5 separate regions of the Homo sapiens genome follow, and regions 1, 3, 4 and 5 are each linked to region 2. Evidence: fine-mapped expression QTL. A gene starts in region 2. Each other region holds a variant in brackets. All regions are shown on one strand. Distances are from middle to middle. Region 1 overlaps ADAM23 (ADAM metallopeptidase domain 23). Region 2 holds the start of ADAM23 (ADAM metallopeptidase domain 23). Region 3 overlaps ADAM23 (ADAM metallopeptidase domain 23). Region 4 overlaps ADAM23 (ADAM metallopeptidase domain 23). Region 5 overlaps ADAM23 (ADAM metallopeptidase domain 23).

Region 1 (6,072 bases), 160 kb before region 2:
ATGGAACGCTTAAAGCTTCTAGCTGACAACACAATCCTTTTATTAGGAACTTAACTTTGCTCCCTAACTCTTTGATACACTTACTTTTCAGTATAATGTGTTTGTGGAATCTGTTTATTACCTAGCAGAATGTTTTCATTTTTGTTTACTTGCTTATTTCCATTACTTGTTGGTTTATTATTATTTTCAGTCTTGGTCCCTGCTACCTAGGTTTACTTGTGCTAAAAGACAGAATTTTTGGTAAGTATAAAATATCAAAAACTATAAATTTTCTCCTTTTCTTAAGATTTTCTATTTTATATGTAGAATTCCTTTATAGACATGTCATGCTTCAGACATTTTGAAAATGTGCTGTTTTGAAATTGAGTGGGTTTTTTTCCTTATTTTTAGAGAGTTTCTCAAATAAGAAGATGCATTATTTCCCCCAAGTGATTCCAAAGGGGGTTAAAATCCTGTATCTTTTGATACTTCACAGGCAGGAGGCATCAAAGTCATCATTTGTATTCCATGGACCAAAGTGCTTTCTTCAGGGATTTATTATTCCACTACCATTCAAGACAAGAAAAGTAAATACTAAATAAACTCTTTATATACTAGTGTATAATATTGGTATGTAGCTCCATATTTCAATACATTATACATACAATCAGATCTCCTTACTGTTTTCCATAAAAGAAAAAAACAAGTTCATTTTTAGATACATGGACAAATGTCTAAAAGGATGCAAAATAAATGATTTCATGTAAGAATATATTTCAGTTTATGCTGTCAATGAAAATAGGGTTTTTCTGAACTGAAACAAAATAAATTCAGTTATTAAAAAATTTTTAAACTTGATATATCCTTGGGTTATTGATAAGGCCATTGTTATTTGAGAAAAATATCCAGGTAGCACATAATTATACATGAGCATAATCATATATGATAAGGATAACTTCTCATATCTAATCATCTAAACTATAAAATCAAAGATTTGTGCACTGACGAAGACAGTCACCAAAAGGATATATTGCAAAAGGTAAATGTAAACACTAAATACTCCTCAAGGTTAATACCTCAGAAAATAAGACTTCAAAACTATTATTTTAAAAATACTAAATGATAATAATATAATACTTCCTTTCTTATCTAATTCCATAAAAAGCATCACTGACAATAATGGATCAGTTAATAAGCTTGATTACTACCTGGTTATTGTTTCACTTTCTGTTTACTATTGTGCTATGAGAACTAGCAGAATAACTTAATATTCAGCTTTTTTTTTTTTTTTTTGAGAAGGGTCTTACTCTCTTGCTCAGGCTGGAGTGCAGTGGTGTGATCTTGGCTCACTGCAACCTCTGCCTCATGGGATTAGGTGATCCTCCCACTTCAGCCTCCCAAGTAGCTGGGACTATGGGCACATGCCACCACAACTGGCTAATTTTTTTATTTTTTTATATAGACGGGGTTTTTCCATGTTGCTCAGGCTGGTCTGGAACTCCTGGGCTCAGGCAATTTGCCCACCTCAGCTTCCTAAAGTGTTGGGATCACAGGCGTGAGCCACTGTGCCTAGCCTCACTATTCAACTTCAAAACAGGAGTATGGAATAACAGAAAAAAGCATTTGGCTCAAGATAAGGTGATTATGTTATATTATTGGCTCTGCCTCTCACTCTTTGTTAACCCTGAAAACTAACTTAGTTTCTTCATTTGTAAAACAAGGGGTCTAGACTGAATTCTTTCTAAGGCCCTTTTCATTTCTGATTTGATGAGTGTGGTTGTGATGAAAAGGTCTGACCAAAGCTTCCCAGGAATATCTGCCCATACATATCACTGAAAACATTACCTATGTCCCAGTTTCTCTTCCTTCTTACAATGGTGATGTAAACTATCAAATGAGAAAAGTTCCACTGTATTCTATAGTAAGCACCTTGAGAATGTGTCTACATACAGACAATAATTGGGGTACTTGATGTGGGTCTCCCTGTAACAGGAGAGAATTCTAGGTCTTTTAAACAGAGTTAAAATACATTCTGTCCTTGTAGAACAAAGCAAAATAATTTTCTATAATGATTTCAGTGGAAACAAGTTGAGAGAAGGACTAGGCTTAAAAAATATAAAAAATTAAAAATAAACTTAAGAAAGGGTTTTTGCATGTGAAATGAACAACGTAGAAAAAATAAATAATGTGACAAAAATCTTTTTTAAAAAATCCTTGCTCACATGGTTTGTGCTTTGAGATCTTATTTCTTGTCTTTCAATAGTTTGGTTTGAGAAGTTGGCGTGAATAATCTAGCATGCCTTAAATTATGGGTCCATAGTGGACAACTGTAGTAAGTACAGGGTGACTACAGTGGCAATGCTTTCAGGTATGCTTTCAGTCCTCACACAGGAGAGGTTGAATTTCCTATTCTTCCAGGAACTTATAGTTAAAATAAAAGAAATACACAAAACACATCAGTTCATTTCTGACATTCTCAAATCAGTGAAGACGGAGTCATAGAATTCGCCTTCATTTTTACTAATTTGGTCTTGATCCAAAGGGCAGTTGGGTACAATTTATCTTTTATGCCCATGTTCATGATTTTTAAAAAGGCCATATTTTCATTATGTTTCTTGAATTTTTTTCTCTATATAATGGAAGCACATTGAAATTAAATAAAACTAAGTATTTTTAATACTCTTACTGCACCTATACAGAAAACCTTCATCTATGGATATGATTGGCCACTGTGGGTGGTGCCCATTATAAATGGCAAGCATTTGGGGAGGGCCCAAACACTGTGCTCAATCAGGCAGGTGCCAACCAAACCAGTTGGATCATGAGAAAAAAGATACAACATGCAGTTTTTGGTTTTTTTTCCTGAGACAGTGTCTCACTCTGTTGCCCAGGTTGGAGTGCAGTGTCGCGATCTCAGCTCACTGCAAGCTCTGCCTCCCAGGTTCACGCCATTCTCCTGCCTCAGCCTCCCGAGTAGCTGGGACTACAGGTGCCTGCCA[C/T]CACGCCCAACTAATTTTTTTGTATTTTTAGTAGAGACGAGGCTTCACTGTGTTAGCCAGGATGGTCTCGATCTCCTGACCTTGTGATCCGCCCGCCTTGGCCTCCCAAAGTGCTGGGATTACAGGCGTGAGCCACCGTGCCCGGCCACAACATGCATTTTTTGAGAAAAATCTTAGTGTCTCACACACTGCTGAGCCTACAGTAAGTAAAACACTGATTGTTTTAATAACTTGAGTCCATTACCTATTACTCGTCGGCAAGGCAACAAAACAAATGAATATGGATAAACTGAAAAGTGGCACTAGCATGCACCATCTCATTTCCTTTGCATATTTCAAAAGAGAAGAGTGTAATATTTATGGAGTGTCTGTGTGCCAAGCATACGCTATCTTTTAAATAGTAGACAGTCAATAAATATTTGCTAACTGAATAAAACGAAAAGCACATAATTTCTCACTTGGAATCTTCTTTTAACCTGACAATCAAAAACAAAATAATAAAATCTACAACAGAGTTTTAAAATTTTTTAGTTTCTGTTTTACCAGTATATTAATAGATTTTTTAAATAGAGGTTAAAAAGATATAGATAGCTATTACAGATAAAAGCTATTATTTACTTGTACTAAAATTGCTTGAATTTTCTGGAAATGTAAATATTTATAAAAATAACTAGGTCATTTATTTCATTTAATGACATTTTCAATTTAATCAAAATTATTAGAGATTCATAAGGTTTTTAATAATTTTAGAACCAATAGATAACTTTGCAATGACTCCATTGTCTTCATTAAAAATGGAAAAAGAAAAATGCAACAGGAAAGAAGCATACCAGAATGCTTATCTCTTTTTTTTTTTTTTTTTGAGATGGAATCTCGCTCTGTTACCCAGGCTGGAGTACAATGGCACGATCTCGGCTCACTGTAACCTCCACCTCCTGGGTTCAAGCGATTCTCCTACCTCAGCCTCCCCAGTATCTGGTACTACAGGCACGCACCACCATGCCCGGCTAATTTTTGTATTTTTAGTAGAGATGGGTTTTCACCATGTTGGCCAGGCTGGTCTCAAACTCCTGACCCCAGGTGATCCGCCTGCCTGGGCCTCCCAAAGTGCTGGGATAACAGGTGTAAGCCACCGTGCCTGGCCTCTTTTTTGGGGGATGAGTAGGGGGCTCAGTGTCTCACTCTATCACCCAGGCTGGAGTACAGTGGCACGATCTTGGCTCACTGCAACCTCTGTCTCCTGGGTTCAAGCAATTCTCGTGCCTCAGCCTCCCAAGTAGCTGGGATTATAGGCATGTGCCATCGTGTCTGGCTAATTTTTGTATTTTTAGTAGGGATGGGGTTTCACCATGTTGGCCAGGCTGGTCTCGAACTCCTGACCTCAGATGATCCACCTGCCCTCGGCCTCCCAAAGTCTTGGGATTACAGGCGCGAACCACTGAGCCAGGCCCAATAAGGCTTATCTTGAGCACCTCTGAGTTTTAATATTTTCCGTATTTTCAAATTTTTCTACAATAAGTATGTATTACTTGAAGGATCAAAAAAGTTATTTTTTTTTAAAGGTAGTGTGGGATACTACCACATTAAATGGAGAGAGTAAAGCAAAACAAAACAAAAGGCAGCTGTGAGTACTCTTTCTCTAGAATGTGACTTTCTTTACTTAATGCCTCCAAAGATTTTTAGGCATGGGTGGGTGAAGGAACAGGGAATAGATATTACAGAACCAGACAATTAATAACCCCCTACTCTACTTAAAGAAAAAAAGGCAGAGTCTAAGTAAATTTAGCTCTGCTCATCCGTTGAGGCATCTTTATACATCACTTGAGGAAATAGCATCTAGATCTTAAAAAAAAAATCACAGAAACACTGTGGAGAGAAAATTTGGAAAGAATGAACCTTGGCTTCTCTTGTTAGAGCTTAAATCTTCTCTAAATCTAACTTCAGAAGGTGGATCCAAGAATTTTTTGTTCTAGTTTTAAAGTAACAAAAGACTAAGTGTAAAAGTGGAATACGTTCCCTTTTAGAAATAGAAGAAGGAGAACAGAAATAGACTGTGAGGGTGTGATTATGATTCTTACAGAATTTTAATATCATGGGCATATTAAGCAAATGCATAAAATGTGTTTTAACACACCCACTATTACTGAACAATTCACATGCGCCTGAATCAGCCTAAATCTCTTCAGGAATTGAGGACTACAGAGCTTCATCTGCATCTGAAATCATCTTTTCCCATATAAACTATACTGAAGTTCAGAGAGTTTCAATAAACTTTCATCCAAAACTAAGCTGATCTAAATGGTACTAATCCTATATGCATTTTCCTACCTGTCAGAGAAAAGCACGGCAGTTACAAAAAAACTGTTAGCAGTACCATGATAAAGAAGCTGATGTACAACGTCATCCCTGTATATAAAAACTGGTTCTAGTATTTCCTTGGTTTCTTAGGTACAATGTAACAGATGCTGTAGTAGGCCTGTTTGTGACTGATGGGTTTTCTAGATCTTTGAAAATTGTATGAGGGGTTGAGAATCGGGAGAATAATGAAAAATGATTACCATACTCCTGATAACACAGACTACATTATAAGATGATGTAAGAGGCCAGGCGCGGTAGCTCACACCTGTAATCCCAGCCAAGGTGGGTGGATTATGAGGTCATGAGTTCAAGACCAGCCTGGCCAAGATGATGAAACCCCATCTCCACTAAAAATACAAAAATTAGCCAGGCGCAGTGGCAGGTGCCTGTAATCCCAGCTACTCAGGAGGCTGAGGCAGGAGAATCTCTTGAACCCAGGCAGCAGAGGTTACGATGAGCCAAGATCACACCGCTGCACTCCAGCCTGGTCGACAGAGTCGGACTCTGTCTCAAAAAAAAAAAAAAAAAAAGATGATGTAAGAGGGGCGGGTGCAGTGGTTCACACCTATAATCCCAGAACTTTGAGAGGCCAAGGCGGGAGGATCACTTGAGGCCAGGAGTTCAAGACCAGCCTGGACAACATAGTGACACCTTGTCTCTACAAAAAATAAAAAATTAGCCAGGCATGGTGGCAGGATTCTTGGGCCTTGCAGTTTGAGGCTTCAGTGAGCCATGA
Region 2 (6,072 bases):
CCTCTCCAGTAATATTCAAGGTGAAGAAAGCACTTTCTCAGAGACCTAACTTGTAAAAAATAGTAAAAATTAAACATTCAGGTCACCTGAATTTTATATTAGCTGCTTTACAACATAGGAAAATCACCCAAAAGCCTTAAATTTCTAGCTCCCCATTTGTAAAATGGGGATAAATACTGTTACCACTCACCTATATTTTAGAAAACTAATAAAAAACAATGATGTAAACTGCAGATACTTTCTTAAATTCTAGATGTTTAGACAGTTAATTGCTAACTGTTGTTCTCACCTGAACAAGTACAGATCAAAATGAAACATTTAACATACAGACTCTATTTTCTGCTCCCGATAAACAACAGAAGAACCGATAATCCATTGTTTAAATCTGCTCGGGGTTCAAAATAATATTAATTCAAGTAAAGAATAGTAACACAGGGAAAAAGATCCCTTAAACTCTTTGGATATTAAACATTTGTCTTCTACTGATACCTTGGTAAATATCAGTTCCACTTTCTGAACTAACCTGAAAGTAAAGCAACTGCTCATAATCAATGCAGAGTAGGTACTGAAGAATTATGCCAATCAAAATTGGTCTTCATATTATGCAAATAATTTGTGTCTAGTCACCATAATCTTTTTAAATGTCAAATTGTTTACCTATTGAAAATACAACAGAAAATTTTTTTTTCCTCCTACTGATCAATTAAAGAAACAGACTGTTTAAACACTCAATTTCTAAGTGGAAAGACTGATGGAGACACTGCAGCCAAATAGCTTCTTGAAGCAATCTTGCATGTGCAGATTGAAAGCAGTTTTTATATCATGGGAGACAGTTTTATATCAAGGCAGAATACTGCACCCTTACATAAAGCCTCACAGAAACAAGTTAGAATCATAAACACATTCACTTAACTACTGTTCAGTGCCCAATGTACCTGAAAGATACATGGATATCATTTCAGGTATCAGAAAATTCTAGTTCCAGTTTAGTCAGAGAAGAGAAACAACAGTCTTATCCCAGTAGATCCCAAGTTAATTCCTTCCAGTTTCTCCCCTATCATAATATTAATTGCTTTCTTAATAAAATGCTGCAGTAAAATTTGTGAACTCAGATTCTGGCAGAAAATCAAATCAAAGGAAAACTCTTCATGATAGTTACTTTTGCATAGCCAGCCTCCTGCCTACCTTATTATGTTTTTGCTGGTGTCTTGCCTTTGTGTCAAGAACGTGATAAGGGCTTTCCGAGTCTTGGTTGATGTAATATATGAGTCTTGAAGGCAGTGTGATTTCTTTCTGCATTGCATTGCTGTAACTGATATTACTGCTGCTATTCTGTTGCAATGTATTGTCTTCATCTGCCAGGACTCCCAAATTTTTTTCTGCAGTTTCATTCCAATGCGGAGCTGGTGGAGGTAGGGGGGTGGGGGAGCAGAAAATACAAACATACACAAACACACACATATTTACCCCATAAATACATAAGCACTAAAATGCATTTTTCCTTTAATTTCAAACACAAAGTTTTCTATTTATAAGCAGTTAAGAAGTAGAGCTAGAGTAAAGCAAGTTATTTCAACAATAAAATGGCCTGGAGAAGTTAATAAATAGCCAATAAGGCTTATACAACTGTGCACTATTTATTTTGATTTATGTCTTATATATACATTTCTAGTCAGACTCAAATCTATACTTCTAAGTGTTGGGGGGGGGGTAGAATGAACTTGAGGGAAGAAGAGTCATTAAATGAACATGTTCAGGGGTCCTGCCCCCGATCTCCACCCCTTCTCTGAGTCCACAGAAGCACAACTCTACTCTGCCTAGTGGCATCCCATCCAAGAGCTAAGAACGCTCCTAAGATAACTTGAGTACTGAATTTATGGATACCGAATATTAATCGACTCTTTTAACAAAATGGACAATTCCCTTCTCTTTTAACTTTAAGATGAGCAAACATACTTTGCCATGTAGGGATACAGATGCTGGCAGCTTCCCAATTTCTTTTTATTTTCCTGACAAAGCCAGCTTTCTGCTTTCAGTGACTTCCAATCATCAATATATAGAAGATGGTATTATATTAATTGTTCATTATAATGACAAGCACTTTGAGAAATCAGAACCAAAGGTCGTGCATGAAGTATGTCTTCAGCACCTTAATTCTTTGGTCCCCGAAGTGTGCCTCCCCCACCTTAATTCCAACCGCACTGAATGCGCCGGATACGAAATTTGAGGAAACAGCCCATTACCACTATTATCACTACATCCTCCCCGCATTCACATTAAGGTTCCACCACGCAAGTAGCAACTTGCTCCCTCGCTGTATTTCCCATCCACTGGTTGCCCCTCCGCAAGTTGCACAGAGATCGCTGAGGGACCCAGGATCCACTAAACACCTCCCAGTGGAACCAACAAGAATTGGAATGGGTTTTTCGCGAATGCAACAGAAATGGACTTCCAAAAGTGAACTGGGATGAATGGGGGTTTGGGAACGAGAAGGGTGGAAAGACAGGCAGGGAGGGAAGGAAAGGCCGAGCCGGGGACAAGCCCGGAGCACACGGACCCGCGCGCCCTTCGCTTTCCTCTGCAGGGCCCCGCGGGAAAGCCAACGCAAAGGGCACGGGGCCATACCCACCGCTGGGCGCAGCAGCCCCCCAGGCGCGGGGCCGGGACGAGGCGGCGAGCGGAGGCAGCAGGAGAAGGACGAGAAGCAGGCGGCAGGGCGGCGTGCGGGCCGGGGCGCTGGCAGGCACCGAGCCGGCGGGGCCGCGTTGGGGGCCGCAGGAAGCGCCGGCAAGGCTGCAGCCCGCCAGGGGCGGCTGCCGCGAGCTGCTGCCGGGCGGCTTCATGGCTCATAGCTCCCGGGCGCCGCTCCGTGTGGCCGGCGAGAGCGCCGGGCTAGCTGCGGGGCGGCCGCGGGCGGAGCCGGTCACGCCGGCTCGGCGCGCATGGTGCCGCGGCGGGCAGGGGGCTCCGGGCTCGGGGCACGGGGCGCGGGGCTCGGGGCTGGGCGGCGCCCCCTTTCCCGGCTCGCCTAGCCTCGCAGCCACTCCCGGGGCGGGACGCAGAGGAGTCCAGGGGTCCTCGCCGCTCCGCCAACTTGGAGCCTCCCCAGCGGCTACTCCCTCCCCCGGCGGGCGCGGCCGCTTCAGCGACTGCGGGGGCTGCCGCCGGGCCTGAGGATGCTGAGGCGGCGCGCGGGAGCGAGCGGCGCGGGGACGCGCGGGAGCGAGCGGCGCGGGGACGCGCGGAGCGGGCGTGCGCCCCGCCCCCCGAGAGCGCGCCCGAGCGGGGCTTCGGGTGCTGATGCTGTTGCTGGATGCTGTGCTGCTGCTGTTGCCTGGCCCGGAACGCACTGCGCATGCTTTGTTGGGGGGCGGGGAAGGGGGTAAAGCAGCAGAGTGATGCAGCAGCCCAAGCAGCATCGGAGGTGACGGGTGGTACCTCAAAAGATGGGGGCGGTGGAGGGGGAGCCGGCAGTCACGGATAAGCCAGAAGAAAGAGAGTACGGGGGTTTCCAGGCCAGAGACAGGGATGATCGGGAGAAAACAACCAGCCGAAGTCCACCTGCCTTTTCCACCACCCCAGACTTCACATACCCTCTCCTATTCCAACCTCTTCCTGCTCTGGATAAACTAAGGCCACGCATCTCCTTCTTAATCCCTTATATATTTGCTTCCTGCATGTAAATATAAAGGATTGCAGCCGGGGAGGTAAAAATAGCGCGGCTCCTCATTCAGATTGCCAGCAGCGGGTGGGACTGCGGCTGAGAAGAGCGTTTGCGCCGCAGGCTGGCGCGGAGTGGCAGGAATCCCCCGCGCAGGGGCGCTCTGCCCCGGCCTGTGTCCTCCCTGCCGGTGCCTGGGGTCTTTGAGGAAAGCACAAGAAGCCGGACGGTGTTTGCTCAAAAGTTCAGAAAGTATGACTGGGCATATTCGGGAAGGACTTCGACATTCTGGCGGGGAAGCAATACAGAGATTAGAAACCAAGTGTGTGGCAGCTATCTTGGGAAATCCGTTGTTTGTCAACCACGGGGATGGGCACACATTTAGGAGGACACATTTCTATTTTTGAGATCCAGTCCTGACTTCTGCAGAGGAAAGGGGAAGTTTTCTCTCGTTGCTGTAAAAAATGTAAATCCCTGACTTCGGTGGGTTCGCAGCCACTAAATCTGATGGCTTCAGATAAGAGTCTGTGGCATATTTCTGCCCCCAAACTCTCATAATGCAAGCATTCATTTATTCACCCTCCCAATGACAATCTGAGTGATAACAATGTTGTCTTACTCCGACATCCACGGGGTGAGGGCTGGGGTGGAGAATTCCATGATTAAAAGAAAGAATGTGGGTATAAAAGTGCCATGGCCATGACAGAACTCAGTGTTAGCCATCATCTTCTCCACTCACACTTAACAAAGAGAAAAGAAGAAGACATATACGCGCGCGCACACACACATTACAAAACTGTTAGGTAAATACTGAGATAACTTCCTTTCTATGTTGAGCTAGGATATTATTATCACATATTTATTCCTGTAAATTTGTAATTGTTGCTACCTCCCCCATGTGAGGGCAACAACAGTTTTCCCTTCTGCACACCATTGTGTCCCTAGGACCTCACACAGTGTCTGAGGCACAGAGAAATCGCTTGGAAAATATGTACTAAATGAATAAAGAAATGGGTGATACACACAAGCAGAAGTCACACTTGGGGCAGGCTAGTGAACACTCTAGCCCCACCGGAGTGCCCACTGCAGGTCAATGTTCTTAGGGTTGTCTCCCTCAAGTCAAGTATTCTCTGGCTAGGTTTTCCAAATTTATATTTGACACAATATGCATCCTGAAAAAGGGCCTGAGAGAAAGCAAGCCAGAAAGGAGATGTACAAGCAATGAGAAGGGAGAGGGAAATGAAAGGTGCAAAGCACCCAGATGCAAGTTACTTGAAAGGCATCTCTTGCAATTCAGTGACAACCTCTTAAAGTCTGTTCTGATAAATAAACCTATCAGCCAACCTGGACTGACCAAACCCACCCACCAGTTACAACACATCATTTCATGCACTTGGGGTATGGAATGAGGATTCAATATAGTTTCTTTTTTTCTTTTTTTTTTTTTTTTTTTGAGATGGTGTCTTGCTGTGTCACCCAGGCTGGAATGCAGTAGTGCGATCTCAGCTCACTGCAACCTCTGCCTCCCAGGTTCAAGCGATTCTCCTGCCTCAGCCTCCCAAGTAGCTGGGATTAGCTGGGATTACAGGCACGTGCCACTACACCCGGCTAATTTTTGTAGTTTTAGTAGAGACGGGGTTTCACCATGTTGGCCAGGCTGTTCTCAAACTCCTGACCTCAGGTGATCCACCCACCTCAGCTTCCCAAAGTGCTGGGATTACAGGCGTGATCCACCGCACCTGGCCTCAATATAGTTTCTAATAAGGGGTTGGGGTATTTACAAAGAGGGATGTTGTCTTATGTACTATAGTCAAAAGACTGCATTTATTTACAGAACTTTAATGGTTACAGACATTGCTAGAGTCAAAATAAGATATCAATAAATGAAATAATGAGTCAGAGAAAGAGTACATTACTTAGAAAAAATTTACTGGAAGTTTAGTCTTTAAGCCATATATTTAAGGGAAGGTTAAAAACAGAATCAAATATTAACTGATTAAATAATTTAATTGGTCAACTTGGTAGAGTTAGTAATATTCTTATTAGGTAGTTCAGAATTTTTATTTTTATAGAGTTTACTTCTAAATATTCCCCTCTGTGCTTTCATAAGATTTAGTGACTTGCTTAATCACTTGCCACCTACTGCTTTGCTCTGTATTCGTGTATGTGCATATCATCATTCTTCCATCAAAAAATACTGAGAGCAAGGCTGTATCTTGGTCATCTCTGACTCCACAGCCTAGTATAGTACCTGGAATCAAATCAGCATTCATAGAGGGGCACTCACAGGTAGGAAACAGAGGGATTCAGCAAGATGGACTGGAATAAAGAAATATACCAGAAGCTTGAGTGCTATAATGGCCCTGGTTACCAATGTGTGTTGGATCCTAAGGCCATCAGAGGATCACTGG
Region 3 (6,072 bases), 170 kb before region 2:
TTCTGGATGAAAATGGACTCTGAACACCAATGGGGCATTCCAGGACCTTAGCTCTTCCACTGATGTCCCAGCAGGGGGAAAGTGAGCTCCTCTACAAGGGAGGCCACACTGCGATGAGGACAGAGATGAACACTCCTGTGGCAAGCGGACTGTGAAGGTGCCTCACACATAAATTGTAAAACCATCACAGTCACTGTATGTTGAGAACGGTCTGAATTTTCTCTATGAAAAAAATATTCTTTCAGTTCAATTTTAATGTGAAAGTACAACTACTGCGGGCAGGTCCTTGCTGACTTTCTTCATAACGGTTTCCTCTGAATACCCTCCGCTCACTAGGATTCTGAAGGTAATTAACTTTCTCATAACCTGTAAGGTATTTCTGGATCATTATAAAACACTAGCATAATCCATAAAGCTTACATTTTCACAGCTTTCATCCATTTTTACTACTTCTGAAATAATCTGGACTTTTGTCTACAATATACATTATACACATAACATCTACACAAAATTAAAGCAAGACTCTTTCAGTAACAATAACCGTCTCAGAGCCGTAAAGCCTTTAGTTCTTCTTTCAAGGGCATATATTTATCCATGGTTAGCACATTCTTATCATTCTATGCTGAGTCACCCCCTGACGAAGTGTCCCTAGCCCAACCCCTCCTAGGCCACCATACACTGAGCTCACTTCCCTGGGGCGCTGGGGCAGGGAAATGCACCGATCTTCCTGGCCAGCCTGGTACCATGAAAGAGAAAGTGCCTAACCCAGGAGTCCCAGGCATTAAGGGAATCAGGCTTCTCATTTTGAACTGGGATACAGTCATGGAATTCAAAAAAACAGCAGTCTGGTTATCCTCCTCGTGGAAAGACTAGCCAAATTTAATTCAATTTCCTAATTCAATAAAAATCAAAAGGCCCCCACAAAAAATGGTGTTTACTCTTTTGAGAAAATATAATTAACAATATTAAGTTCCTTTCAAATTTTATCTGACTTGACATTCAGATAACTCTTTTTTTTTTTGAGACAGAGTTTTGTTCTTGTTGCCCAGGCTGGAGTGCAATGGCGCAGTCTCGGCTCACTGCAACCTCCGTCTCCCGGGTTCAAGGGATTCTGTCTCTGCCTCCCGAGTAGCTGGGATTACAGGCGTGCACCACCATGCCCGGTTAATTTTTGTATTTTTAGTAGAGACAGGGTTTCACCATGTTGGCCAGTCTGGTCTCGAACTCCTGTCCTCAGGCGATCTGTCCACCTCAGCCTGGGATTACAGGCATGAGCCACCATGCCCAGCTTCAGATAACTCTTAACTTTGCTGGTAATAGTCTAGATATAGCTCTTTTTCATTTTGTGTGAGTACATAAACAGCCTTTTCTTTAACATGTCCAATAAAATGGAACGTAGGCCAGACAGAATCTCTTAAATCCAGAGTCAGGCTCAGAAGAGCTTTTAACACAAATAACTTCTCAGAGAGAAGGAATCACGTATGATAATTACACAGACTTATTAATATTAAATTAACACTTTTAATGTAAGGAGTAGCTATGCCAGGCCAGTATGGCCACTGATGAAATCCACTTTGCCACTGAATCCCATGGACAGGGCAAGTAGCGGGAGAGTAAGACGTGGTGATGAGGTTCTACAGACTGAGGTGTTACGGTATCACTGGAAAAGCTCAGTGTTCATCCTGTAGTCCTTTTGATTTCAATTTTCAACAAACCATGTCACTATTACCTTCATTTCTTTTCCTACCATCACCTAGAATTTCTCTTTTCCTACCACCATCACCTACTAATGTGCATGTAAAACCCTACATTCAAATTTAGGGAATATCAGATAAATAGCAACGCCTAAGGTGCTGAAGACAATCCTGTTCACTTTTAAATGGAGATATGAAATTCTCTTTTCATATACTTTTCACCTTTCCTAAGCTTTAGGGAAGATGCTACTAAAATGGTCCTGCTTTTTCTAATGTCCAGTAAAAGCAACAGCTCTAACAGTCGAATCAAGCAGTATCATCATTTAATGTTGGGTAGGTGTCATGAGTCTCCATGAGTCAACTAGGACAGAGGTTTGCAATCCTCTGCACCACAGCTCATAACTTTATTCTTGTGTGTGGGTGATGGGGAAGAACAGGAGCATGGGGTGAATGAAAATAAATGCAGATATAGAAGTAGAGCAAATTGGTGTGCCACATGCCTATGTTCGTTTTTCACAGGATTTCATAGAGAAATTCCTAAGACCCTCAATACCTGGGACTCTACGACTAATCATACCCTTAGTAACCTCATACTTCTGGAGTATGAAATTAAGCAAAGTTGGCTGGGCACAGTGGCTCATGCCTGTAATCCCAACACTTTGGGAGGCCGAGTCTGGCGGATCACCTGAGGTTGGAAGTTCCAGACCTGCCTGGCCAACGTGGAGAAACCCCATCTCTGCTAAAAATACAAAATTAGCTGGGCGTGGTGGCGCATGCCTGTAATCCCAGCTGCTCAGGAGGCTGAGGCAGGAGAATCGCCTGAACCTGGGAGGCGGAGGTTGCGGTGAACTGAGATCATGCCACTGCACTCCAGCCTGGGCAATAAAAGCAAAACTCTGTCTCAAAAAAAAAGAAAAAGAAATTAAGCAAAGTTACTACCCATAACATTACACAATATGTGACAATATTTTTTAAAAATCTACCAAATAAAACATTTAAAAATTCTTCAGGAAATCCACAACCTTGCTTGTGGAAGTCTTGCTTGCATTAACCAAAGCGGTCTGACTCAACTAATCTACTAAAAGGAAGTATGTAATTTAAATCAGTATTATTTTCAGATTATAATAATCTTGATACATCTTTATTATCACTTCACACACACAAATGTGCACACATTCACATACATGCACACATTTT[C/T]ATGCTTTTTACCACCTATTTCAGAGGAAATAATAGTTTAAGGAAAGAACTTTAAAGAATGGCAGACAAGGTCAGGGCTTAGAGCATAGCTGTATTTCTCATTTATACTTGGGCAGGTCACGTATAGTATGATACTTCTACATCTAAACTACTCACTAGTACACCTAAAGAAATGTGACATTAGGAAAATATAGTATTTTCCCTGAGTAGTTACTGTATTTTCCTTTAATCAAAAAGTTGACATGCCCTCAAATTGTTCAGGTTACCTTACCAACTTTTCTTCTAGAAATAAAAACCTGGTATCAGGAGGGATTCCCAATAGCAGCATTTAGAACAATCTTTTGTACAAACTATTTTCAACTTCTGATTCTAAAGGAATTTCTTTTTAAACATTTACATTGAACTCAAACCCAAAGGCTTTCAGTTCAAATAGCAAATAATTATACTTACGAATTATCTCCAGACTAGTAATCTCCAGAACTGTCCAAGTGGTGGGAAAATCTAAACATTATCATTCAGCACCAAAAGCCTTTTATTACAAGGTAGAAGTGTTATTTAAAGCTGAACACAAACCACACAGTTACTACTAAAATCTAAAGCAAATTAAGGTCCTCATGTAGCAACCAACAGTCACCCAGGAGTAGCACATTCTCCAAATTTAAACTCCTGAAGTTACATGTTCTGGAATTATTCTTAGTCTTCATCGTTTTCTTTGCTTCGGGGCATGAAATACTTCACCCTATTGTGTGTCTTTCTACACAGTTCTCCCTGAAAGTGATTATCAGAGTTACAGGGCACAGGAAGGGGCTTTGACTCAGCTCAGCAGTACAGGTCCCTACACAGCAACAACCAGGCAGCAGTCAGCAAAGGCTGTTTCTCATCTCACTAAGTGCTGATCCCCCACCTTTTGTTTTCTGTTCTTGTGATAACGAGATCTCTCTCTCTCTCAGATATAAAGAATCTTTACAGGGCCTAATCCACTTATATACACAGTGATAAAGGCTTTTCCATTTTTCCCCAAAGAAACATGCAATTCAAGCTGTGAGCTAGGCCAGGCCACTGTTTTGAGGTCCTGCTACAGAATAGTGTGCTCTTCTCTCGAAACACTGCAATGATAAATTTGGCATTGCATATGGCTAGACGGCAAAGACGTGTAATAGACTGTTTTCCAGGCCTTTGAAACCGGGATTTCTTAACGCCAAATGAGGCATAAGCCTGGGCATGATCCAGATTTATTTTTCTTGAGGCATACTAATGAAAAAGTTCAAGGAAGCATTATAAAATAATAAGAGTATGGCAGTACTATAATGTTCAATGACTTTTTTGTAGCAGTGGAACACTAAGAAAAGTTTTGCTTGAATTAGGTCCGCCCAAACGAAAACATATTTCTTACTAGATGCCACATGCGTGACTCACTATGTGGGCAATATTTTATTAATACCAAAACAATAAATTTAAATATGAGTTGTCCATTTTATGAGTGTGTTTTTGAAAACACACTGATGCCAAGACTACATTACTAAACAAGTTCAACTCTACAAATATACCGAGAGAAAAGACGTATAATTTTATAATACTATTTCAAGTTAAAGGCACTCCAAAACTGTAGACTTACTCAATAAATCTTAATATGATAACAAATTAGCAGAAAATGTTGAATGTATTTAAATCATCTTTGGTTTCTTTAATCAGCTTCTAAAAATAACACTTTAACTGGCTGAAACATATTGAATTCAAAATCCCAAATATAAAACATATAAAGTTTATAATTAAGGCAATTATTCAGATAGTTCAGGGCAAAAGCTTCCTCTTTTGAGTAACCAGATGCAGGCAAAGTGGGTTTTGAATTTGGGTAATGGTCTTATTTCCCACTTAAATTTGTTTCTGTGAATCTGGCTGAAAATTTATCACAGGAGGCACAGGAGGGCTTACCTACAAATCATAATCATCAACTCACTATAGCATGAAAAGGTATAAAAAGCAATTATCCAATGATTCTGGAGTGTAGAAATAGCCAGCCTGGATAAATCAGCTTTAAAAATTTTGATCACAATTGAAGTTTATTTGTGAATACCCAGTGTGTCTATTTAAACAATCTTAGTTCAGTAAGCAGTGTGCAATCCAAACTAAAAGGTCACTATGAAAACACACCAGGCCTACCTGTCAGGTCAATATTTAGTCCTTGATTAGAAAATACTAAGTGTCACAAAGCCACATTTTTCAAATTCTGATTTAAAACCAATTCAGTTGGTCGAGGATTATACAAATACTTTTAAAATCTGTTTTCATTAAACTATAAAGCTTTTCAAATCACAAAGCTACATATACTATGTTACATATGAAAAATACAAGTAATGATTGCATAATTACTTAGGTTGTGAAAATTTCAAAATATCAGTGGACTACAAACAAGTTTTAAACAGATACAAGCAATTTACATCCACTTATTTCCAACTACATGGTTTCCTCGATTTCCTGTGTAGAAATGAATGTATCTCAGAGTGCCTGCTCTTACAAGCTGGACTGTCTTCTACCAAAGAACTTCGTTGTTCTCCTTAAAAATCAGTGTATATGAATTCCTTCTACATTTCCACTTGCCTGAAAATGACAGTTGAGGGTCCGTGTTTCTTCATTTCTAACCCATTTCTGAATAAAAAGACTTATTTTTTGCAGTTTGACTGACAGAACCTAAGCTCTTGTAGCAGGAACTCAAAACTTGGTTATGTAAGCAGAAAAGAGAAATGCCAGAGCCACTGAGAAGAAGACATGCGGCGTTGCTTACTTAAATCCCCAGCCTGTGCCCCCAAGGACAATAGCTGCTACCAGGATGGCACCAGCGATGGAGCCTATTATGAGATTGGTGGCACTAGGACCTGTGACAAAGGATCATGGGAAGAGAGTCATATGAACCAACCACTTTCGTTACCACAAGGGAAAGGCAGTTAAGCAGTTTCAGGAAGTAAATATCCTGTGTAAAAGACGGCTAAACATTTAAATTGCCTTTATTTACTTAGCTTAATTGCATTTTAGATGCTACGGTGAGCGTTGCTTGGATTTATATGCCTTTAAATCTAAAGTTTCTGCACCATTGACAATTAAGTTCCATTAAATTCACCTTTCACAGAATTTGAAGCAAATAGGCCCCACTTGCTGTCTTTACACATCCTTCTTCTCTTCCCCT
Region 4 (6,072 bases), 50 kb before region 2:
TAGCAGTCTATCAATTTTGTTGATCTGTTCAAAAAACCAGCTCCTGGATTCATTGATTTTTTGAAGGGTTTTTTGTGTCTCTATTTCCTTCAGTTGTGCTCTGATCTTAGTTATTTCTTGCCTTCTGCTAGCTTTTGAGTGTGTATGCTCTTGCTTCTCTACTTCTTTTGATTGTGATGTTAGGGTGTCAATTTTAGATCTTTCCTGCTTTCTCTTGTGGGCATTTAGTGCTATAAATTTCCCTCTACACACTGCTTTGAATGTGTCCCAGAGATTCTGGTTTTTTGTGTCTTTGTTCTCGTTGGTTTCAAAGAACATCTTTATTTCTGCCTTCATTTCGTTATGTACCCAGTAGTTATTCAGGAGCAGGTTGTTCAGTTTCCATGTAGTTGAGCGGTTTTGAGTGAGTTTCTTAATCCTGAGTTCTAGTTTGATTGCACTGTGGTCTGAGAGACAGTCTGTTATAATTTCTGTTCTTTTATATTTGCTGAGGAGTGTTTTACTTCCAACTATGTGGTCAATTTTGGAATAGGTGTGGTGTGGTGCTGAAAAGAATGTATATTCTGTTGATTTGGGGTGTAGAGTTCTGTAGATGTCTATTAGGTCTGCTTGGTGCAGAGCTGAGTTCAATTCCTGGATATCCTTGTTAACTTTCTATCTCATTGATCTGTCTAATATTGACAGTGGGGTGTTTAAGTCTCCCATTATTATTGTGTGGGAGTCTAAGTCTCTTTGTAGGTCACTAAGGACTTGCTTTATGAATCTGGGTGCTCCTGTATTGGGTGCATATATATTTAGGATAGTTAGTTCTTCTTGTTGAATTGATCCCTTTACCATTACATAATGGCCTTCTTTGTCTCTTTTGATCTTTGTTGGTTTAAAGTCTGTTTAATCCGAGACTAGGATTGCAACCCCTGCCTTTTTTTGTTTTCCATTGGCTTGGTAGATCTTCCTCCATCCCTTTATTTTGAGCCTATGTGTGTCTCTGCACATGAGATGGGTTTCCTGAACATAGCACACTGATGGGTCTTGACTCTTTACCCAATTTGCCAGTCTGTGCCTTTTAATTGGAGCATTTAGCCCATTTATATTTAAGGTTAGTATTGTTATGTGTGAATTTGATCCTGTCATTATGATGTTAGCTGGTTATTTTGCTCATTAGTTGATGCAGTTTCTTCCTAGCCTTGATGGTCTTTACAATTTGGCATGTTTTTGCAGTGGCTGGTACCGGTTGTTCCTTTCCATGTTTAGTGCTTCCTTCAGGAGCTCTTTTAGGGCAGGCCTGGTGGTGACGAAATCTCTCAGCATTTGCTTGTCTGTAAAGGATTTTATTTCTCCTTCACTTATGAAGCTTAGTTTGGCTGGATATGAAATTCTGGGTTGAAAATTCTTTTCTTTAAGAATGTTGAATATTGGCCCCCACTCTCTTCTGGCTTGTAGAGTTTCTGCCGAGAGATCAGCTGTTAGTCTGATGGGCTTCCCTTTGTGGGTAACCTGACCTTTCTCTCTGGCTGCCCTTAACATTTTTTCCTTCATTTCAACTTTGGTGAAATCTGACAATTATGTGTCTTGGAGTTGCTCTTCTCGAGGAGTATCTTTGTGGCGTTCTCTATTTTTCCTGAATTTGAATGTTGGCCTGCCTTGCTAGATTGGGGAAGTTCTCCTGGATAATATCCTGCAGAGTGTTTTCCAACTTGGTTCCATTCTCCCCGTCACTTTCAGGTACACCAATTAGACGTAGATTTGGTCTTTTCACATAGTCCCATATTTCTTGGAGGCTTTGTTCGTTTCTTTTTATTCTTTTTTTATCTAAACTTCTCTTCACGCTTCATTTCATTCATTTTGTCTTCCATCGCTGATACCCTTTCTTCCAGTTGATAGCATTGGTTACTGAGGCTTGTGCATTCGTCACATAGTTCTCGTGCCATGGTTTTCACATGTACATTTTTAACCTCAGCTAAAATATCAGTAGTACTCATTTTTGCAGCTTATAAAACTTCTGGCTGTTAAAGCTGTGTCAGGTTGAGATACTAGTGGGAAAAAAGATGCAAAATAGCTAAGCTGTATCAACAATCCATCACTTCCATTTATCCAGTAAACATTTGATATCAACCACTGAATGGCCAGCTAAAATAAATGGATGCTCAAAAAGTTATTGTCCCTCACCACACCCAAAAGTACTGAACTACTCACCCTCAAATTAGTCATCCTTCAAAACAGCTCAACCATCTCCTCCTCTGTATAGCTTTCCCTGATCCCACCCTAAACTGTGGGCTCCTTAAACGAACTGCATCTTATTCTTGTTTCCCTATGAGCTGGCATAGTGCACAGGGAGGGCAAATGCTAGCAATCATATAAAGAAACCCTTTACCACTGAACAGCTTTAAAGAGCAAACATTTTTTTAGGGTCAAGTATTAGCTCAGTCCTTAATGAATAAATATGAACAGTAATAAGGGAGAGCCTCAGACACTAGTAAGTTTCTAAGAATCCCTTGGTTGGTCAAAGGGTTTCAGTTTCCATTTTGCAGAATCAGTAAGTTCAGTGGATGTAATGTGCAGTATGGTGACTATAATTAATTATACTGTATTGTATAATTGAAATTTGCAAAAGGAGATCTTACATAGTCTCAGCACAAAAACAGAAAAAAGATAACCATCTGAGGTGATGGATATGTTAATTAGCTTGAGCGTGGTGATCATTTCACAATGTATACAAAAATTAAAACATCACCTTGTATACCTTAAATATGCATAATTTTTATCTGTCCATTATCTTCAATAAAGATGAGAGGGGGACATTCAAGAAAAACAAGAAATCCTGGAGATTTACAAGAGATATAATCTATTCTTATGCTGTGAGATCCTTCTGGTCACATGTAGTTTAGTCTGATTTATTGGATGTGTGAACTCACTTGGGCAAAAAAGAAAGGAGGAAGAAATGAAATGTGCTCTCTACAATGTATTAGAGATTTCCACCTTCTTATTTGAAAGATATTCCTGTAAAATGGAAAAATATATTTGTAATTATATTAAAGGACGTGAAACTTTTTGTAGAAATTGTTTCATTTAAAAAGCCAATATAGGCTAGGTGTGGTGGCTCACGCCTGTAATCCCAGCACTTGGGAGGCCGAGGCAGGTGGATCACCTGAGGTCGGGAGTTCGAGACCAGCCTGGCCAACATGGCAAAACACTGTCTCTACTAAAAATACAAAAATTAGCTGGGCGTGGTGGCGGATGCCTGTAATCCCAGCTACCTGGGAGGCTGAGGTAGGAGAATTGCTTGAACCTGGGAGGTAGAGGTTGCAGTGAGCCGAGATCGCGCCACTGCACTCCAGCCTGGGTGACAAGAGCGAAACTCC[G/CG]TCTCAAAAAAATAAATAAATAAAAAGCCAGTATAGATTATTTTGTTTTTAAACACAATCTAAATATTATATTAAGGCTCATGGATATCATCATGGAAGAAGCATTAGAACAAACTTGTTAAAGAGAGTACTTTTATAAATAGCCCATAATAAACCATAGTTAGGATTCTTATTTGGGGATTCTAATTTATAATTAATTTTAAAAGATTAGGAGAAATGACTCTAGATGATGAGATTCTAGTGTATGAATCATCCAAAAAATGGTTCTAAAACAACACAATTCTCACTGGCAACAGATGACCATCAAGAGTCTTAATGAGCCAGTTCATGTGATGTCAAGCCCTTACTTTATATAAATCTATGGAGAACCAAGAGGAAAATTTAATAAGTTATTGTTTGGGACTAGATTTATGCAATGAATAGTAGTATTCAAAATAAAGCAAGGTTAAGACACAAATGATATAAAGTTTTTTATTTCTCTAAGGTTCACATTTGTAGAGCTTTTCAAACACATTTTTAGTCAGACTTCTTTATCACTGAAAACGTCTGCTATGGTTTGAATGTATAGGTCCCTCCAAAATTCATGTGGAAATTTAAACCCCACCTATGAAGAGGTGGGGTCTTTTCAGGGTGATTAGGCCATGAGAGCTTTGCCTTTATCAATGAGATTAATGAGATTAATGAGATGATCAATGAGATTAATGCCCTTACAATAAAGGCTTTGGGAGAATTGCCTGGCCCTTCCATATGGCTCTTCTGCCACGTGAGGACACAGCAACAAGGCACAATCTTGCAAGCAGAGATCCCTCACCAGATATCAAGGCTTGGTCTTGGATTTCCCAGCCTCCAGAACCATCAGAAGTAAATTTCTATTGTATAAACAATATATAAATATTGCCCAGTCCATGGCATTTTGTTATAGCAGCACAAACGAATTAGATAATGTCTCAACTCTCCAAGGCTTTGACAATGGGCATTCCTAGGTCTGTTCTTGGCTGTTACTTACTAGCTGTGTGGTTCTGTTCACCTCTCAAAGCCTCCATTTTCTCTCACTCCATGTCCCAAGTTTCTTGCTTACCTTCAGGCCTCCACACTCTCTCCCCCTTCAAGCCTTTTCTGACCACCTCTTAAACATGCTTTAGGCCTGAGTTGAGACATTTAGCTCCATAAACATTTACCTTGTTATCCATTTCTACCTCTAATCTGGGTTAGGTACCCCTCCTATGTGGGATAAAAACATCCTGTACTTTCCCCATCACAGTACTTCTCAGATTGTCATTAAATGCCTACAGATTTGTCTTTCCTCCTCCATTGTTCTATAAGCTTCATGAGGGAAGGACTTCTCCAGGCAAACTTTGACAGTGCCTGGCACTTAGCAGGCACTCAATAAACATTTGTGAAATAAAAGTGCTCGGAATCATTCATGAATGGCTTCTGTCAATGGAAATCTATCCATCAACTCAGGTTAGAAAGAACTTTATACACTTGGCTAACACAGAGGGTCAATATGAGAAACCCATTTAAGAAAAATAATGGTTGCACACATTAACCATTATGCTATTGAATGCCCTACTACATCAGGCGTCAAGGGATAATTCCTCTTTGACAAGGAAACATTTATATCTCTAGAGAGATAAAATTCTTGTATCAGATAATGAAAATTACACAACCCACTAAAAGGTAAGATCTCATTTCAGTAACTACTGTAATAAACTTATCTCAGATGCTTGGTCACATCTAATTCTCTGTGCTTTTCAATTTTTTGTCACAATTAACTTCTGCTGGAATTTTTATACATTATTTGTCTTTGTCTTCAAAAGACCAAGAAGTGCTCTGAAAAAATGAGTCAAGTTCAGATTTTATTTGCCCACATTCTGCATTGGGGTGGATACCCGCAAAGGGTCTCCTTTTATCCACCAGTCAAGAAATAGTCTCCTGACTCACTAGAGATGTCTTTTATATCCTAGGTAAGATAAACAGTGTAATATGATCCCATCAACAATTAAATTCTTTTGATTTTGCTACAAATTCTTAGTTGCCATACTTTTTATTCTCCTGCTAAAGACTGTAGCCACAGGGTCCTCTTTTCTGGGCAATCCCAGTTTTCTCATCTCCCAGAACCTAGAAAATCTAAATCTGGCTCCTGTGGCCCTCCTCATTTCTCTAGCCTGGTGCTTAATCTCCCTGGGTCCCAGTCACTCACAATAATTATTGTTAATAGGCAAGCAGGGGTAGGGGCAGGCAGAGGGCAAACATCCATTGAATTTCACCACCCAAGAGTTATGCTGGATTTTGTTCATCTATGAAAATCAAGAATCAGTATATAAGTATCAATGGTTTGGTTGTGATTTTATTTTTAATAATCTTGTTATGTTTAATTGTGCAAGTCATTCTCAAACCATTTTGAAAGTAGGTTGCATAGACACCCTAAGTAAATAGAACCAGAATCTACTAAAATTTAGACAATATTTCTTTTATTGTATATGTTTTCAAGATTTTCTGGACCTGATCTACCAGCATAAAGATGAGTCATCAAAAGCAAATGATAATACCCAAGGCATTCAATATGGGTTGACTCAGACCAGAAATGTCTGATCACCCTGATCAGAGAAAATATGGCAACAAAAAGAGTTACCTGGCACTCTAGAATTAAAAAGTTTAGAAGCAGACAGGAAAGGGTGGCTTCAGGAGAGAAAAATCCATAGCAACTCAT
Region 5 (6,072 bases), 85 kb before region 2:
CTTCAGTTTGTACAAATGCCAGGAAGCTTGTTCCCGCGCTTGATTTAGCTTTTCTGCTCACTTTCCACAGCACTAACTTTTAGGGAGACTCAACAACCCCCAAATGCAACCTAAGGCAAGAACTGACAACTAATAAGAATGATACATGAAAGTTCTTAATCTGTGGCACAAAACTCAAAGGCTGGAAAACACGTCCAATTACAAATTGAAATGTTATAAATCCTGAGACATGCCAGGGCCTCCTGAGCAGTATTTATAATGAAGGACACCTATAAACATTTGCTGAGAAGCCATCAGATTGAAAATCCCAGTTACCTATATGGCACAAGTCCACATACGGGAAAGGTGCTACTTTTATGCTGACATGTGTTAGCAATCTAGGAAAAAGACAAACAAAAATCCAGTGAGGTTTCCCCACTTTGTTTCCTTTCTGGTGTCCCCAGTAACTGGGACACTGCTCAGGTTCAGTGGCACTTGTTGATTCCCTAGAAGTCAGAGTTTCTTTCTGTAGCCATTCTGGGGATCTTCACCCTGACTGACGGAGGTCACTGTTTCTTACATACAAATCATCTCTCTCTCTCTCTTGCTTTAATCCAAATCCACTTGCTCTTTATTAATCCTCCCTGAAGACAAGAAAGTTCATCTCCAAATGAAGGAATCAGATACCCAAGTACCCTCATATTCAATGTCCCGTGGCCTTAAGCAGGCTTATTTGCCCTCTCTCTGCCTTAATTTCTTCCATAGTACAGCAGGAATAATAACATCCACCTCATAGAATTGTTATGAAGGTTAGAGAAAAAGTACTACCTAAATCTCACTTCCCCCACCTGTCCTCTGCCCTTCTTGGGCAGCAAAATCATTTGCACTAAAGAACCGTTCTAACAGCCCATCCAGTCTTCTAATCCAGATTCGATGGCCATGAGCCTCATCCTTCTTTACTAACTACTTTCAGGTGCTGATATGGAACTGTATAGCTCTTTATACTATCACAAAAGGTACTGCATGTATAATCAAAACAATAAACATTTTTTGTCCTGAATACCTAACGTTACCTCAAACATTTGTATATTTTAATAAATTTCTCCTCACTAAAAATAGTATCATTGTAAAAGAGCACAGGTGATTTTACTGAGACAGACGTCAAAACAACGCAGTGTGCACTGATCAACTCTATGATAAGCACACTTATACTAGAGTACTTGCCGACGCCGGTAACCGTACCTTAGAGTACTGTGGTTTCCCATTTTCGTAGTGAATCTCCACATAATCAGAAGACAACAAACCACTACAAAGGAAAGAAAATAGAGTGATTTCTGCATCTAAGACACTTGGAGGTTTAAAAACAATCGGCTCAATAAATGAACGTGAGGGGCATGCAAACCAGAAATAGCTGCAGTCCATGGTTAGTACAGAAACAAAAACAGGTTATCATCGAGTTTCACACAGTATCCAGGAATAAATTACTCCCCAATCTGCAGAAAAAAAAAAAAAAAAAAAAAAGACAAGACACAGACAATCCAACGGTGAACTCTTTTTTTTTTTTTTTTTCTTTTTGAGACTGAGTCTCGCCCTGTCGCCCAGGCTGGAGTGCAGTAGTGCGATCTCGGCTCACTGCAAGCTCCGCCTCCCGGACGGTGAACTCTTTTTATTCACATTATTCAGGATCTGATTGATATGTTAATTAATACAGAACAAACCAAAAGGCAAGTAACTTGAGGAGACAGATCCTATAAAAATTCCACAATTATGCCCTAAACAGTTGGAATGTCATAAAATGTAATCACCAAGGAAGAGTATAAAGCAAAGGTCAGCAAGGGTTTTCTATAAAGGCCAGGGAGTAGATATTTTAGGTTTTGTGGGCCATGCGGGCTCCACTACAACTACTCAGCTCAGCCATTATATTGCAAAAGCAGCCACGGGCAGTATGTAAACAAATGAGCATGGCTGTATTCCAATAAAACTGTATGGACACTGAAATTGGAATTTCACATAATTTTTATGTGTTATGGAATATTATCCTTCTTTTGATTTTTTTCAACCATTAAAAAATACATAAAACAAAGCCGGGCATGGTGACTCATGCCTGTAATCCCAGCACTCTGGGAGGCTGAGGCGGGTGGATCACGAGGTCAAGAGATCAAGACCATCCTGGCTAATATGGTGAAACCCCATCTCTACAAAAATACAAAAATTAGCCGCGCGTGGTGGCACGCACCTGTAATCGCAGCTACACAGGAGGCTGAGGCAGAAGAATCGCTTGAACTCAGGAGGCGGAGGTTGCAGTGAGCCGAGATCATGCCACTGCACTCCATCCTGAGAGACAGAGTGAGACTCCATCTCAAAAAAAAAATGTATATATACACACACACACACATATAAACATTCTTAACTTGCAGACTGTACAAGTTAAGAATGGCCAGAGATTGCTTGTGTGCAATAGTTTGCCAATTCCTGGGATAAAAGGAAGGGTAAGGGGTCAGGCACAGTGGCTCACACTTGTAATCTCAGCTTTGGAAGGCCAAGGCAAAGAATTGTTTGAGGCCAGGAGTTTGAGAACCAGCCTGGCAACATAGCAAGACCCCCATTTCCAAAATATTTAAAACATTAGCCAGGTGTGGTGGCATGCACCTGTGGTCCCAACTACTAGGGAGCCTGAGGTGGAAGGATTGCTTGAGCCCAGAAGATCGAGGCTGCAGTGAGCTACGATTGCACCACTGCACTCTAGCCTGGGTGACAGAGTGAGACCCTGTCTCAAAAGAAAGAAAAAGAAATTTAAAATAAATAAATAAATAACAAAGGTTAAGAAAGTCATTGAAGTCAAATAGTGTTTAAAACCTATTTTTTAAATAGGCAAGTTCCCCAACTTGTATGTCAAATGGAGATGGTCAAGGATGTGAATCTCATAGAACATTGTGAGGATTAAAGGAAACCATGAATATGCAGTATTTAACTCAGACTATGCAGTACTAGGCTAAGTACTGCATTTCTTAGCCTAGTACTTATTCAGTACAGAGTACTGAGTA[T/C]GCTGATTAGGTACACATTAATTGGCATTGTGGCAGTCACTATTTTTATTTTAACTCAACTTCTTAAAACATATTTCTCCCTATACAATGTGGAAATACAAAATATGTGCCTCCTGAAGAGCACTGGATTATTAGGGCATCTAGGTTCCTGTTTGGGCTCTATCACTAGGAATAATGACAAGTGATAACTCGCATTTGCTGACCACTTACTATGGCACAGGTACTGTTATAAGGACTATAATGGTATTAACTCATTTAATCCTAATGGGAACTGAAGGACAAGAGTAGGTCCCACTCTAAGCCAGCTGTATGCTCTAAACTTGGGTCTTTATTTCTTCTTATGCAAAAATGAAGGGCTAAAGCAGAAGATTCCTCAGCTCATGCCCTATTCTGCTATTCTGATTTTCTATAATTTTGCCTCATAGTAGGTTTTCTTGTTAGGAAACCGTGACACTACTTCTTTAGCTGAAAAATGGGAGGACTCAATGATTTTGCATCATTTTGAGAGCTGCATCTGATGCATTCTAAAAATAATCCAGTGAAGAGGGCTGGAAAGGGGTGTTGAGCACCAGTCAACAGAGTAACTGGGGGCCTCCTGGGTATGTCCTGCGTATGTCCTGTGTGTGATGAAGGACAACCTTTCCAACACAGAAAGGAAGCCAATGCTTAAACTTTAGACATGTTTCCCATTAAAATCACAAACCAAATGTGTACTGAAGGATAATTCTACACTTGAAACTAAATTGTGGTATGTCTACTCATTCCTTTTTAAAAATCTCAGATAGTAAAAGTAATGACAATTACTGAACTCTGTATACATGGGGAATATCTCACAGGGTGCAGAAACTTATTTCACTGCTAGTTAATTAAGTTGGCTACCAGCACTATGATATACATAGATGAAGCTGGTGATGGTATCATTCTTCTGCAGAAAGCTTCTGCAACACCAGGAGGCAGAGAGGTCTCCCTAACTACATTCCAACTGTGTCTCTCTACAGGTAATTTACTATTTTCAACATTTTCAACCACACAATCATTGGAGCACATCTAAGAGTTGGAAACAACGTTATCTTAATTTTGCCTGTAATTACAAGGGCATTCTAACCATGAATTCCCAAATCTCATAAAGGTCACTTTAATTATCCTATTTCCCTCTTTTTAAGGGTCTCTTCTTCTCATGAACATACCTGTTTCTAGTATCTCTGGCATTTTAGAATCTTAAAGAAGAAAAACAGCTACTTTTCAGGAGGTCTATGGCAAATACTGAGAGAAATACACCACCATATGCCCCTCCTCACCATGCCAGTCCACTCTTCTACTTCCTGTAAATAGCACACATCCCCATTTACTCCATTCTTTCCTTCTGTCTGACCACAGCCAGCCTCCCTTGAAACTAATTATTCCACTCATCACAGTATCCCTAGCACCTGGCATAATGCCTAATGCATAGTAGGCCCTTAATCAATATCTGCTGAGTGAGCAAACATCTACCAACACCTGCTATAGGGGCTTGGAAACAGGGTGAAAAATGCAACTTTCAAATTGAAACTAAGCAAAATCAGCACAAATGTGCAAGATTGATCACCTCACTCAAAAATATTATTTTGTAATCTCCTTGAGAGTGAATTACATCAACTGAAATGTAACCTAATTAATTATAAAAGTCTTGAAATAATAGTGAAATGTAATTTTTGATGATGGACAAGAAACACTAAAAAGGGAGAAGGGAATAGTTGATTGTGCAGTGGTGTCTCCAGCCCCACCCAGCCAGGAAGGAACCGGTAATCTATGTCTCCACATGCCTGAAGATGAGTTGTCCTTTCCTCCACCTCTGCTTTCTGTAGTCCTAATACAATTTCCTGTTGGAAACAGAATGTTCTGAAATGCTAATACTCATCTATTTAGCAATTGCGGACCCAAATATAAACTGGCATTTTACTTTGTTGATCAGCCAATTGGATGTTTGGTTCTGAAGATGCTAACAACTTGTGGGCAAACTCTGAACATCCTAAATTCTAAAATAAACATCTTTTTTCAATCACTGAAGCTACAGAAAAGCTGTATTCTCTGGCTACTCCCATGCTTCTCATGCAGGTTATCTGTTGAAAGAGGAGTGACCTTTATAAGTAAATGAATAAACGTAGGATGGAAGTTCAAGCCAGTGAAAGAAAGTGGAAGAACTAGAACAAGGAAACTCTTGAACCCACTCACTCTGCCCTTCATGGTGAATCTGCACCACTAAAGTGGTGAAAACTCTAGGAACTCTAGAATGAGACTAAATATGATTTTACTCAAAATATGAAGAACATGTAAGAGCAGGAGAATATAAAACTATTGAAACATGACAAATGAGCCAAGAATCAGGTCAATGAAGGGAACTGTGGCAGAAATAATGCTGTGTGTCCACCAAATGCTATTTCATTTTCCCCTTCCTGGCATCCTGATAAGACCACATTTTGCAGGTTCTGCTGCAGTTAGGTTAGGGCCAAGACAATGGATCATGGCTAATGAGACATGAAGGAAGTGATGTCTGCCCCTCTAGTGTGACCACTAAAATCCCTGCAGGATTATCTAAGCCCTCTCTTCCATGGCAACCCTGGAAGCCACATGCTCCAGATGGCATAACAGAAATATGAATGCAGCCTAGACCCTTTCATCATGATTTGGAGAAGAACTGTCTAAAAGAGCTACTCAACTTGCACTATATCGCAGTGTGGGGAAGAGATAACATTTTACAGTGCTGAAGTCTCAGATTTCATGTTTGTCACTGAAACATTGTCTAAACTGTCCTAATTTCAGGATTTATCACAAATATCTTTTAGAAATCTATGTTCAAAGAATTTCACAATCATCAGCAACTATACAAGCAGAGCTGCTATTATATTTAGGAATTGGAAATTCACAAAAAGAGATTTACCTCAGGAAAGTTTTATATGTATGTGTATAGACGTGTGTCTGTGTGTGTCTGTGTGTGTGTGTGTGTGTGTGTGTGTGTGTGTGTGTGTATTTGTTGGAATCCTTGAATATGAGATTCATGTTTCTAATGTAA

Evidence for each region. PIP is the estimated chance that this variant, and not a neighbour inherited with it, causes the effect.
Region 1: its variant is the best candidate, but not a certain one, in a credible set for the expression of ADAM23 in tibial artery (GTEx, PIP 0.68).
Region 3: its variant is the best candidate, but not a certain one, in a credible set for the expression of ADAM23 in skeletal muscle (GTEx, PIP 0.51).
Region 4: its variant is the best candidate, but not a certain one, in a credible set for the expression of ADAM23 in esophagus mucosa (GTEx, PIP 0.81).
Region 5: its variant is the best candidate, but not a certain one, in a credible set for the expression of ADAM23 in whole blood (TOPMed, PIP 0.61).

What each region holds. Positions count from the first base shown.
Region 1 is chr2:206,596,973-206,603,044 of GRCh38, reverse strand. All of the region lies in intron 24 of ADAM23 (ADAM metallopeptidase domain 23), which reads right to left. Among named protein-coding and RNA genes, the nearest start is that of FAM237A, 42 kb to the left of the region's middle. The variant C/T (reference allele first, on the strand shown) is at 2,979.
Region 2 is chr2:206,440,638-206,446,709 of GRCh38, reverse strand. ADAM23 (ADAM metallopeptidase domain 23) reads right to left here and starts at 3,178. Exons shown (of 26, transcript NM_003812.4): 1 at 2,630-3,178; 2 at 1,186-1,403. The coding sequence starts at 2,843. RefSeq lists a silencer at 2,604-2,733.
Region 3 is chr2:206,609,602-206,615,673 of GRCh38, reverse strand. ADAM23 (ADAM metallopeptidase domain 23) reads right to left here. Exons shown (of 26, transcript NM_003812.4): 25 at 5,674-5,764. Among named protein-coding and RNA genes, the nearest start is that of FAM237A, 30 kb to the left of the region's middle. RefSeq lists an enhancer at 1-1,090. The variant C/T (reference allele first, on the strand shown) is at 2,892.
Region 4 is chr2:206,490,682-206,496,753 of GRCh38, reverse strand. All of the region lies in intron 3 of ADAM23 (ADAM metallopeptidase domain 23), which reads right to left. Among named protein-coding and RNA genes, the nearest start is that of ADAM23, 50 kb to the right of the region's middle. The variant G/CG (reference allele first, on the strand shown) is at 3,360.
Region 5 is chr2:206,526,098-206,532,169 of GRCh38, reverse strand. ADAM23 (ADAM metallopeptidase domain 23) reads right to left here. Exons shown (of 26, transcript NM_003812.4): 4 at 1,222-1,285. Among named protein-coding and RNA genes, the nearest start is that of ADAM23, 86 kb to the right of the region's middle. The variant T/C (reference allele first, on the strand shown) is at 3,024.